Regions from separate parts of the Homo sapiens genome. Here region 2 is linked to region 1. The links come from fine-mapping of genetic effects on gene expression. A gene starts in region 1. The other region holds a variant in brackets. All regions are shown on one strand. Distances are from middle to middle.

Region 1 (5,368 bases):
TGCAGCAGGACCAACCCTTCCCACCCCACCCCTTCGACAGGGACCTGAGGGAGCTCAGGGAGGGAGAGAAGCCAGAAGACCAGGCAGAGACTGAAGAGAGCTGGCAAGGCCTGGCTAGAAAAACTCCAGGCAAGGCCTGTGTAAGTTGGGGCTCCCAGGCTGTCCAGCAGGGGGCCCTGGCACCCAGCAACCTCTGCTTGGGAGGTGGCTACAGAGGGGTGTGGGTGTTGGCTAGGGGCCCAGCAGGATGGATGCCAGACGGACTTCTCTCCAACAATAACAGCCCTGGCTGTTGCCATCCACCGAGCTGGCAGGGCCCCAGTTTGGGTGGGGAGAGGAACCAGCCTTTCCCAGTCTGGCCTGAGACCCTCACCACTTCCCTCCAGTTTTCTTCCACCTCCAGCCCCCTCTGTACACAACTGCAGCCACTGGCCACCAGCCTTGCCATGCCTGGCAGATCTTCTGACCACTAGCCCTGCCACCCCCACAGACCCAGAGACCAGGAAAGGAGGGTGGGGAGCGAGGAAGGGGGCCAAGGCAGAGGGCAGAGGAGGGCTAGGAGAGGAAGAGAGAGAGACTGGACAAACATGAGGGCAGGAATTAGGGGGTTGTGGACAGACATGAAGCCACTCTCAAGTCATGGGGCTGTGCCTGGAAAAATACCACCTAAACCCATCTTCCTGCCCTCTGGTTAGGGCTGGCGGGGATGTGGGGGATGGGGGTGGGGTGGGGGAGGGTTGGGAAGGAATATGTGTGTCATCTCTGTGGGGCATGGAAACAGAAGGCTGGGGACACCCATTCTGGAGTAGCTTGGGGAGAGCCACTGACCCTAATTAGAAAAGCCACCTCTCTCCTTAGGGCCCTGTCTGTTTCTCTGGGGACAGGGTAGGACTACCTTATCCCTATGATGTGAGGTACTGCCAGTTGTTAATCAGTGTCTGTGGCTTCTCTAGGGGACAAGCCCTTCGGGTCAGTGGGCATGGGGTGGGCAGCGTGGGTTGGATTTTCTCCTCAGGACCTTTCCAGCCTTAGGATCATCCTCTAGCACTGAGTACTGCTGGAAGGGCAGGGAGTGCCCCCCACCCCACCCCATTTATTGCCCGACCAAAGAGAGGGCCTCCCTCCCCCTCCCTTGGAGGGACTTGCTGGACCACCCCTCAGCACGCCCACACCTTCCTCCTTAGCTAGTGAAAGACATACTCAGCAAGGCTTCCGCCTGTCAGGATGGCTGGGACAATAGGATTCACTGAGGATATAAGGCTGTTCCTAGCTTTTTCTCTTCCCATTCCCACCTGTGCCTCAGTTTTCCAAAGTGCTGGATTTAGAAAGGGTGAATTATGAGGGAGCTGGAGGGCTTTGCCCCACCCCCCTCCGCGCGCACACGCAAGCACAGGCAGAGGCACATACCCCCTCCAAGTCAAAGTTGTGAGTGGGGTGGTGTTTGCGCGTCTGTGGCTGGGACTGGATGTGTCAGGGATGGGAAAACCCATCATGCTGGTCACAGAAAATGCGCGGTGGGGACAGAAGCAGTTTTGAAGGAAAAGAAGAGGAGGGGGACTGAAAGAAAGAAGGGGGCGCTGAAAGGGAGGGCGCTGGGAGGAAAAAGGTGCAGTGTGGAGGAAGCGCGGCGTGGGCAGGGCTTGGGAAGGGATAACGGAATATCTGAGGTGGAGTGGGCCGTGGAGCGTCGGGGCCGGTCTGAGCAGCGGGTGTGTAAATGGAACAGTCCCGAGATGAATTTTATGGGAGTCTGCGCAGGTCCTTAATGTGTGGCTGTACCCTCCAGCCCCATGTACCCCACACGATGGACAGACAGCCTTGGTGTGGCAGGGCCCAAAGAGGTCCTATCTACCGCAATAACACGACCAGGCGGCCCTGGGGGCGCAGGGGCTCGGGGTGGGAGCGGCGGAGCGCGCGGAGTCGCCGCGGGGTGGCAGGGGTGGGCCGGGGGCGGGGCCGCGGGCGTCGGGGAGGTGGCAGTGGGCGCAGGGCGGGGCGAGCTCAGCGGAGGGCGGGTTTGAATGTGCCCCGGCGGGAGAGGGAAGCTGCAGCGAGAGCGCGCGGATCTCAGCGCGGGAGCAGTGCTTCTGCGGCAGGTGCTGCCCGGGGCCGGGGACTGGGGACTGGGGACTGCCGGGGCGGAAGACGCCGCTGCCCGCCTGCCACGGAGGGCAGGGAGGGCGGGCCTGACGGCTCCGCAGCCCGGAGAAGGGACGCCGGGTGGGGCCCCAGTGCGGAGCGTGCGGAGCCGCGCAGCACGTGGCGCGCACGGGCCAGGGAGCCTGAGGACCCTGCGGGGACCGGGACCCAAGCTGGGCGGGGCGGCCTGGCTCCCGGGCCTAAAACAGGCTGCGGTCACGTTGACCTCCGCAAGGGGCAGGCGAGTGGACGGGTGATCCCCATCGATCTGGTCGGTATCAGGGAGGGGCCGTGCCGCTGACTGCGCTGGCGGAGGGGTATGGGGATGGGGATGGGGATGGAGGCTCGCGAGCGGAGGTGCAGGCTCGCGAGCGGAGGTGCGGGGCTGTCTCTTTAACCCCGGTCTTTTACTGGCTAAACTCGTATCCCTGGCGTCTCCTTCCTGCGCACGTCTTCATTTACTGATTTACTGTGAGGGTATATGAGAGGGTGAAGACAAACAGTCCTCGGCTTTGCTTACCAGGAGAGAGCAGTCGTAGGTCAAGGCTGGCTCCAACCCTGCCCTCACACCTCTAGGGGTCTCTCTGCAGCCCTGTGGTAGTCCCTTTGCCTACTCCTCTCGGTGGCCTCCAGACCCTCCAACTTTCCTCCTGCTTGTGTAAGCTCCCCATGCCAGGATGTGTGTGATGGGGCGGGGCTGAGCTGCCTGACACTCAAGTCAGGCTGGGAATGATCTTGGTCTCCACCTCATTTTTCCCTTTAGTTGAATCAGAGTTCCCCCCACCTCCCAGTCTACAGGGCTAACTGAGAAGCAGCTTTTATACCTCTCTCCATTCCAAAAGGAGCTTGAACATTTAATATGGATTCTAGCTCCTCCACTCACCAGCTCTGTGACTTCAGGCAAGTGACTCAACCCCTCTGAACCTCAGCTGGCCCCATCTATTCAGTGCTAGTACTAGCTTATGGGTGGTTGTGAAGAAAAGACAAGAGATCTGCAGGTAGTGGCTAGCCCCATATGAAATCCTGGGAGTGGAGAATTGCAGGAGAGGTGTTGGGAGTCTGGAGGCAGGGAGGTACTCAATTTGGTGGCTACTTTCAGGGGCCCACCTCAGCAGGCCAAGGCATAGTTGGAGGGACACCAGATGCTCTGAGCTGGTATCAGATCCCTGTTTGCCGCTGGGCAAAGGCAGACAAAAGCAAAACACGAAGGCTGGCCAGCTGAATGTTAGGATATGGGCAGGAGGAGAGGGCTGGAGTTGAATTGTGCCCAAGACTGGTATGGGAACTCCTGAGAACAGAGAGAGCAGGGGTGTAGCAGGGGGCCAGGGAAGAAATAAATACTTCTTCTCTAAGCCTAAGCCAGTTTTACCCAGGAGAACAGGAGCTATTCTCCCCACCCTAGGCCCCCATCTGCTTTGAAGCTACACCTGCTCTTAACTGCCAGGAATCTTGCCTGTGGGGTGGAGTACGGGGTATGCGGGTATGAAGTAAGAACCTAGAGGAAGAGTCCCTACTACCTAATAGAAAACCTGAGACCTAGGCAGGGCTCAGTGGCTCATGCCTGTAATCCCAGCACTTTGGGAAGCCAAGGTGGGTGGGTCACCTGAGGTCGGGAGTTCGAAACCAGCCTGGTCAACATGGTGAAACCCTGTCTCTACTAAAAATACAGAAATCAGCCGGGGGTGGTGGCAGGAGCCTGTATTCCCAGCTTCTTGGGAGGCTGAGGCAGGAGAATCACTTGAACCTGGGAGGCAGAATTTGCAGTGAGCCGAGATCATGCCATTGCACTCCAGCCTGGGCAACAGGAGCAAAAACTCCGTCTCAAAAAAAAAAAAAAAAAGAAAAAATCTGAGACCTGAGGCTTTCCCCCACCCCCACTCCAGTAATGCCCTCTTGCCTTCATCTCTCTAGAAAATGTAAATATGATTATTCACCCCTCGTGCCTAGGACAGTGCCTGGCTAGCATGCACAGGTCCTCAGTAAATATTTGTCGAAGGCCTGAATGGAGGAATCCTTCTGCCTCTATCTGGAGGTGTGGGGCTGAGGGGCTGAGGAGGACCTCTGAGAGCTTGGAGTTTCCCTGGGGAGGGTTGAGAGGAACTACAGGGAGGTGGGAGAGCCCGTGGAAGGTCTCATGGTGCCCAGCTGCTTCTGTTTGTCTGAGTGGGGCCAGAAGCAATGCTGCACCTGCGAGAGCTCCCCTGCTGAGACTCCCTGTTCTCTTATCTCCCGAGCGACAGGGGTGGCTTTTTATCTCCTGGGTGTGCTTCTGCTTCTTTGCTTGCAAGGCTTCTCAGAATGGGGCCCCATGAAGCCTGAGGGACTCTCTCCTGATAACACCCTGTGCCACCTTTTTCATTCTGGATCCGCACCCAGGAGCCCGTGGACAAGGCCCACTGCCTGAGCCTGAACTAGGAGCACCTCCTAGGGACTGCCCAGGCTTGCTCTGCTCTGACCCTTCTGCTGGCCAGTCTGGGCACCTGGTGAGTGCCCAGAAAGGGAGGGAAGGGAAGCTGTCCTTTCACCCCAAACAGCAAGGCCTGGGCCCAGCTAGGCCTGAGTGTGGGGAATGTGTCAGTGCACATCTGCCTGGCTTCCCATGCCACCCAATGGGAAAGCTGTTTAATCTGCTGGTGCCAGGGGGTCTCCCCCTACACAAATGGGGAGCAGGAGAGGGACGCTGAGGCAGAAGGATAGGTGCTTTGGGATCCACCCCTCCAATCTTCTTTTCAAGGTCACTCTTAGAAAGGGGAAGCGGACAGGAGCCTGTGACAGAGAGGAACTAAGGGAGGACTAGGTGACCCTGGGGTCGGGAGGGGGGAGGGGGAAGGGCTGTGCCCCCACATCCATTATGAAATATTTTCTTGGAAAACCGGCCAGCAACTAGGAAGCCCCTGGGCAGTGGCTGGAAAGAAAGGTTAAGGTGCCAACAGCAGAGAGACTGGAATCTGGGTTGCCTTCAGGAGAGGACAGCCCCACTCTAGCCATGAATCCAGGGGCTCCCCAGGGAGGGTGGAGAGACCAGACTTGCAGAGAGGGGCCTGGGGAGCCTCTGGTTTGACCTCAGTCATCATCGATGTTGTCGCAGCTGCTGCAGATCTGCCTGTTCCGTGTCCTTCCTCCTCCTCCCCCGACCTCTTTGCTGTGTCTCCTCCATTTGTCTCCCTCCTTCCCTTGTCATCACTGTCCCTGACCCCTCTCGTCCTCTTGCCTGCCTTCTTTGACTGTC
Region 2 (5,368 bases), 25 kb before region 1:
GGAGGCTGAGGTGGGCGGATCATTTGAGGTCAGGAGTTCAAGACCAGCCTGACCAAAATGGAGAAACCCTGTCTCTATTAAAAATACAAAATTAGCTGGATGTGGTGGCACATGCCTGTAATCCCAGCTGCTCAGGAGGCTGAGGCAGAAGAATCGCTTGAACCTGGGAGGCGGAGGTTGCAGTGAGCTGAGATGGCGCCATTGCATTCCAACCTGGGTAAGAAGAGCAAAACTCCGTGTCAAAACAAACAAACAGGTTGGGCATGGTGGCTCATGCCTGTAACCCCAGCATGTTGGGAGGCTGAGGAGGGCAAATCACCTGAGGTCAGGAGTTCAAGACTAGCCTGACCAACATGGCAAAATGCCATCTCTACTAAAAATACAAAAATTAGCCAGTAATCCCAGCTACACCAGAGGATGAGGCAGGAGAATAACTTGAACCCAGGAAGCAGAGGCTGCAGTGAGCCGAGATCGAGTCACTGTACTCCAGCCTGGGGGACAGAGCAAGACTTCATCTCAAAAACAAACAAACAGGCTGGGCACGGCGGCTCACGCCTGTAATTCCAGCACTTTGGGAGGCGGAGGCAGGCGGATCATTTGAGGTCAGGAGTTCGAGACCAGCCTGACCAACATGGTGAAACCCCATCTCTACTAAAAATACAAAAATTAGCTGGGTGTGGTGGCAGACGCCTGTAATGCCAGCTCCTCCGGAGGCTGAGGCAGAAGAGTCGCTTGAACCCAGGAGGCGGAGGTTGCAGTGAGCTGAGATCATGCCACTGCACTCCAGCCTGGGTGACAGAGTGAGACTCCGTCTCAAAAAAACAAACAACAAAAAAGCACCACCTCTCCTTCCAGTACCCTATGACTTGCCACTTCTCAGGAGTATGATGTGGTAACTCTTTCTGGGTATAGTTTGCAGTTCTCCATTGTCAGGGATAACTAGCTTTTCACATTTATGGATTACTTACTCATGTTTCAGGAGATTGCCACCTCTGATCCTTTGTTTCTTTTTCTGTCATTTTCTTATTGATTATATTATATTATGTTTTAATAAAGACAGGGCCTCACTATGTTGCCCAGGTTGGCCTTGAACTCCTGGGATCAAGTGATCCTCCTGCATCACCCTCCCAAAATGCTGGGATTACAGGGGTGAACTACCACTCCTGGCCCTATTGATTATAAAAGTATGTTACTTGTAATTGATACTAAATCTTTTTCAATTATATGGACTGCAAATATCTCCTTCCAGCCTGCGGGGGATTGTCTTTTCACTTTGTAGTATCTTTTGTAGTATCAAAAGATCTCAACTTACTATTGAAGCTAGGTGGCTCATGCATAGGAGTTTATTATACTATTCTCATAATTTAAAAAATTGCCATAACAAAAAGTTTGTAAGAATCTATACAACACATAATTCTCTACTATCCCAAATTCCTCTTTTTTTTTTTTTTTTTTTTTTTTTTGAGATAGAGTCTCGCTCTGTCACCCAGGCTGGAGTGCAGTGGTGCGATCTCGGCTCACTGCAACCTCCGCCTCCTGGGTTCATGCCATTCTCCTGCCTCAGCCTCCCGAGTAGCTGGGACTACAGGTGCCCGCCACTACCACGCCCGGCTAATTTTTTATATTTTTAGTAGAGATGGGGTTTCACCGTGTTAGCCAGGATGGTCTCGATCTCCTGACCTCGTGATCTACCCGCCTCGGCCTCCCAAAGTGCTGGGATTACAGGCGTGAGCCACCGTGCCTGGCCTATCCCAAATTCCTAAAGATCTGTGCCTATATTTAATTTAATTTATTTACTTATTTATTTTTTTGACAGTCTTGCTCTGTTGCCCAGGCTGGAGTGCAGTGGCGCAATCTCAGCTCACTGCAAACTCCACCTTCCAGGTTCAAGCAGTTCTCCCACCTCAGCCTCCCCAGTAGCTGGGATTACAGGCACCAGTGCCTATATTTTATAGTTTGACTTTATACATTTAGATCTCTAATGCCACCAGAATTTTTTTTTTTTTTTAAGTTTTGGTCTGTCGCCCAGGCTGGATTACAGGCGTGCACCACCATGCTCAGCTAATTTTTGTATTTTTAGGAGAGACAGGGTTTTTCCATGTTGGTCAGGCTGGTCTCAAACTCCTGACCTCAAGTGATCTGTCCTTGGCCTCCAGACATACTGGGATTACAGGCGTGAGTAACTAC[A/G]CCTGGCCCAGAATTTATTTTTGTAATTGATGTGCCAGAGGATCAAATCTTATTTTTCCTTTTGGGGATGGCCAACTGTTCCAGCCCTATTTCTGACCATTTTTGTCCCTTCACTGACCAGCAATTCCCCCTCTCCCCTACATGTTCTTGGATCTGTTTCTAATCTCTCTATTCTGTTCCTTAGTCACTGTGTCTATTCTTGCATTTTGCCACACTGTTTTCATTCCCATATTACCAGATTGGCCAGATTGGTATCTATAGGGCTAGTGCCCTCTTATTTTTGTTATCTTTCTTTCATTATTTATTTTAGAGACAGGATCTCACTCCAGTCACCCAGGCTGGAGTACAGTGGTGCTATCATGGTTCACTGTAGTCTAGACTTCCCAGGCTCAGGTGATCCTCCCACCTCAGCCTCCCGAGTAGCTGGGACTACAGGTGTGTGCCACTGTGCCCCCTAATTTTCTTTTGTATTTTTAGTAGAGACAGTTTCATCATGTTGCCCAGGCTGATCTCGAACTCCTCGGCTCAAGTGAACTGCCTGCCTCGGCCTCCCAAAGTGCTGGGATTACAGGCGTGAGCCCCCACGCCTGGCCCCCCTCTTCTTTTTCTTCTTCAGCATTAACTTGGTTATTCTTGGTCTTTTTTTCCCATATAAATTTTATTTTATTCTTTTTTGAGACTCCCATATAAATTTTACAATCAGCTTCCAGAAAGACAAAAAACACAGATTGGTGGATTCTTGGTCAGAGTTGCATTGAATTTCTAATTAATTTGGGGGAGAACTAATTTTTTTTTTTTTGAGACAGTCTCTCTCTGCCACCCAGGCTGGAGTCCAGTGGCATGATCACTGTTCGCTGCAGCCTCAATCTCCCGGGCTCAAGCCATCCTCCCACCTCAGCCTCCCAAGTAGCTGAGACTATAGGAGTAAGCCATCATGTCTGGCTAATTTTTGTATTTTTTGGTAGAGACTGGGTTTTGCCATGTTACCCAGGCTGGTCTCAAACTTCTGGGCTCAAGCAATCCAAGCGTCTTGGCCTCCTAAAGTGTTGGGATTACAGGCATGAGCCACCGTGCCCGGTCAGAACTAACATCTTTATAACAATTATAGCCAGGCACAGTGGCTCATGGTAGCCTGTTCCTGTAGTCCCGGCTACTCAGGAGATTGATGTGGGAGGATTGCTTGAACTTAGGAGGTCAAGGCTACAGTGAGCTATGATTGTGCCACTGCACTCCAGGCCTGGGAGACAGAGGAAGAGCCTACCTCTTAAAAAAAAAAAATTATAACATAATACTTTACTGACCATTACCTTGCCTCATTCACTCAAATATTCAAATATTTAGGTCTTCTTTTTTGGTTTCTCCATAAAAAATTTGTTTCTCCACTGGGGTCTTGCCTAGTTTTTTTTATTTTATTTTATTTTTTATTTTTAGACAGAGTCTTGCTCTGTCACCCAGGTTGGAGTGCAGTGGCACGATCTGGGCTCACTGCAACTTCTACCTCCCGGGTTCAAGCAATTCTCCTGTCTCAGCCTCCCAAGTAGCTGGGACTACAGGCGCCTGCCACCACACCTGGCTAATTTTTGCATTTTTAGTAGAGATGGTGTTTTACCTTGTTGGTCAGGCTGGTCTCAAATTCCTGACCTCAGGTGATCCATCTGCCTCAGCCTCCCAAAGTGCTGGGATTACAGGCGTGAGCCATCGCGCCTGGCCATCAGGTTTTTATTAGATTTTTTTCCCTGTGGCATTGTGGTTTTTGCTGCTCTCCCTCCCCACATCAGATATGCTAGGCATGTCCTTCCTTACCTTCTCCTCAAGCTCCTCTGTCCACCCTCATCCCTCTCACTGTCCAGGAAACAGCTGTCTCCTGCCCCAACAACTGACTGTTCCCTCTGAGGCATTGCCAGAGAGGGTAGGGCCCCCACCTCCCACCCTCAGGGTCCTGTCAGCTGAGTGGGGGGTGGGGGGCAGTGGGCAACAGCTGTTGCAGTGGGGACAATGGCTGTATTCTATACAAGCTCCTTTCCTGGGCCACCTCCTCCTCCCTGGCTAGAACAACTGTTCTTGTGGATTGGGGAGTCCCATCTGTCTGTGCTAGCTACTCTTTCAGGCAACCTCCAACTCCCTGGCCCATTTTGCTCATGTCTTACAGGCATATCCAGTGTGTGTCCCACTGCCCGGTCGCCTGTGCATGGGTCTATCATTGCCTGGAATTGGTGGGCAGAGGAATGATGGTCATGGATAAGGGACCATCCCTCCAAAGCGCATCACCTCTTCTTTCAGTGGTCACATTCAGGCCCTAGCTCCTCACTCAGGTAGGTGGTTTCTGGCCTGTTGTCCCAGGCAGAAAGGCACTGTGATTATGACAGGGCTGAGCTCCCAGTTCCTGGGCTAGAACTCCGCCCATTCCCCACCCACACTGCCTATACCTGGCTGGCTCTGGTTCCTGGCCCCAAGGTCTCCCCACCTGCTCCTTGGTAACATCACCCCTTGACACACCCTGCCCTTGATGAGGCCTCCCTGGCTCCTTGTCAGAACTCCTTGTTTAGGGGTCAGAGCTGTCCTCAACCTCCCACAAACAGGAAGGGCCCCACACCAATGCTGATTTCCCAGAGGACAACAGGCCAGTGAAACATGACAGAGCGAGGGGCCACAGCCTCCGCAGGCCTCCCTTGATTCTTCAAGCATTAACAGAGCCCCAGCCTCTGATCTAAGTGCTGCCCATGAGCAGCAGGGTGCCTTGCATCAGGCCTCCAAGGAGCAGCAAGTTCTCTGCTGGCCTCTGACATAAGGGTGGAAGGAAGGAAACTAATATTTATGAGACACCTACCTGGTAGCCAAACTCTGAGCCTCACATTCTCCTCATCTCTTTATCTGGTCAGCTGTAGGTATTATTATAATTCCCATTTTAGGGAGGGGGACCACCCCATAGCACAGCTCCGGAAGGTGCCACTCTCAACTCCCGCTGTGCAATATACAGCCTGCTCTGGCATCCAGAGGGGCCCTGAGAGAGGGTCCCAGAGCCAGCATGTGGTTCCAGAGCGACCAACTCAGAAGCACCTCCAGCCAACTTCACGAGCTGGGACCCAGACACATGTTTTTAATGCAAGTCATGCGGAGGCAGTGGCCTGTCGCAGCATGCTCTTGAGCGCCTGGGTGGAGACATGCAGAAGGGGTGGGAAGA

Evidence for each region. PIP is the estimated chance that this variant, and not a neighbour inherited with it, causes the effect. A credible set is the group of variants that fine-mapping cannot tell apart.
Region 2: its variant is the best candidate, but not a certain one, in a credible set for the expression of SLC29A1 in aorta (GTEx, PIP 0.85).

What each region holds. Positions count from the first base shown.
Region 1 is chr6:44,221,546-44,226,913 of GRCh38, forward strand. It overlaps SLC29A1 (solute carrier family 29 member 1 (Augustine blood group)), which reads left to right and starts at 2,050. Exons shown (of 13, transcript NM_001372327.1): 1 at 2,050-2,096. RefSeq lists enhancers at 1,879-2,737, 2,980-3,129, 5,276-5,368 and a silencer at 1,890-2,289.
Region 2 is chr6:44,196,718-44,202,085 of GRCh38, forward strand. It overlaps a transcript of MYMX not described here. Among named protein-coding and RNA genes, the nearest start is that of MYMX, 18 kb to the right of the region's middle. RefSeq lists enhancers at 3,836-4,836, 4,837-5,368. The variant A/G (reference allele first, on the strand shown) is at 2,188.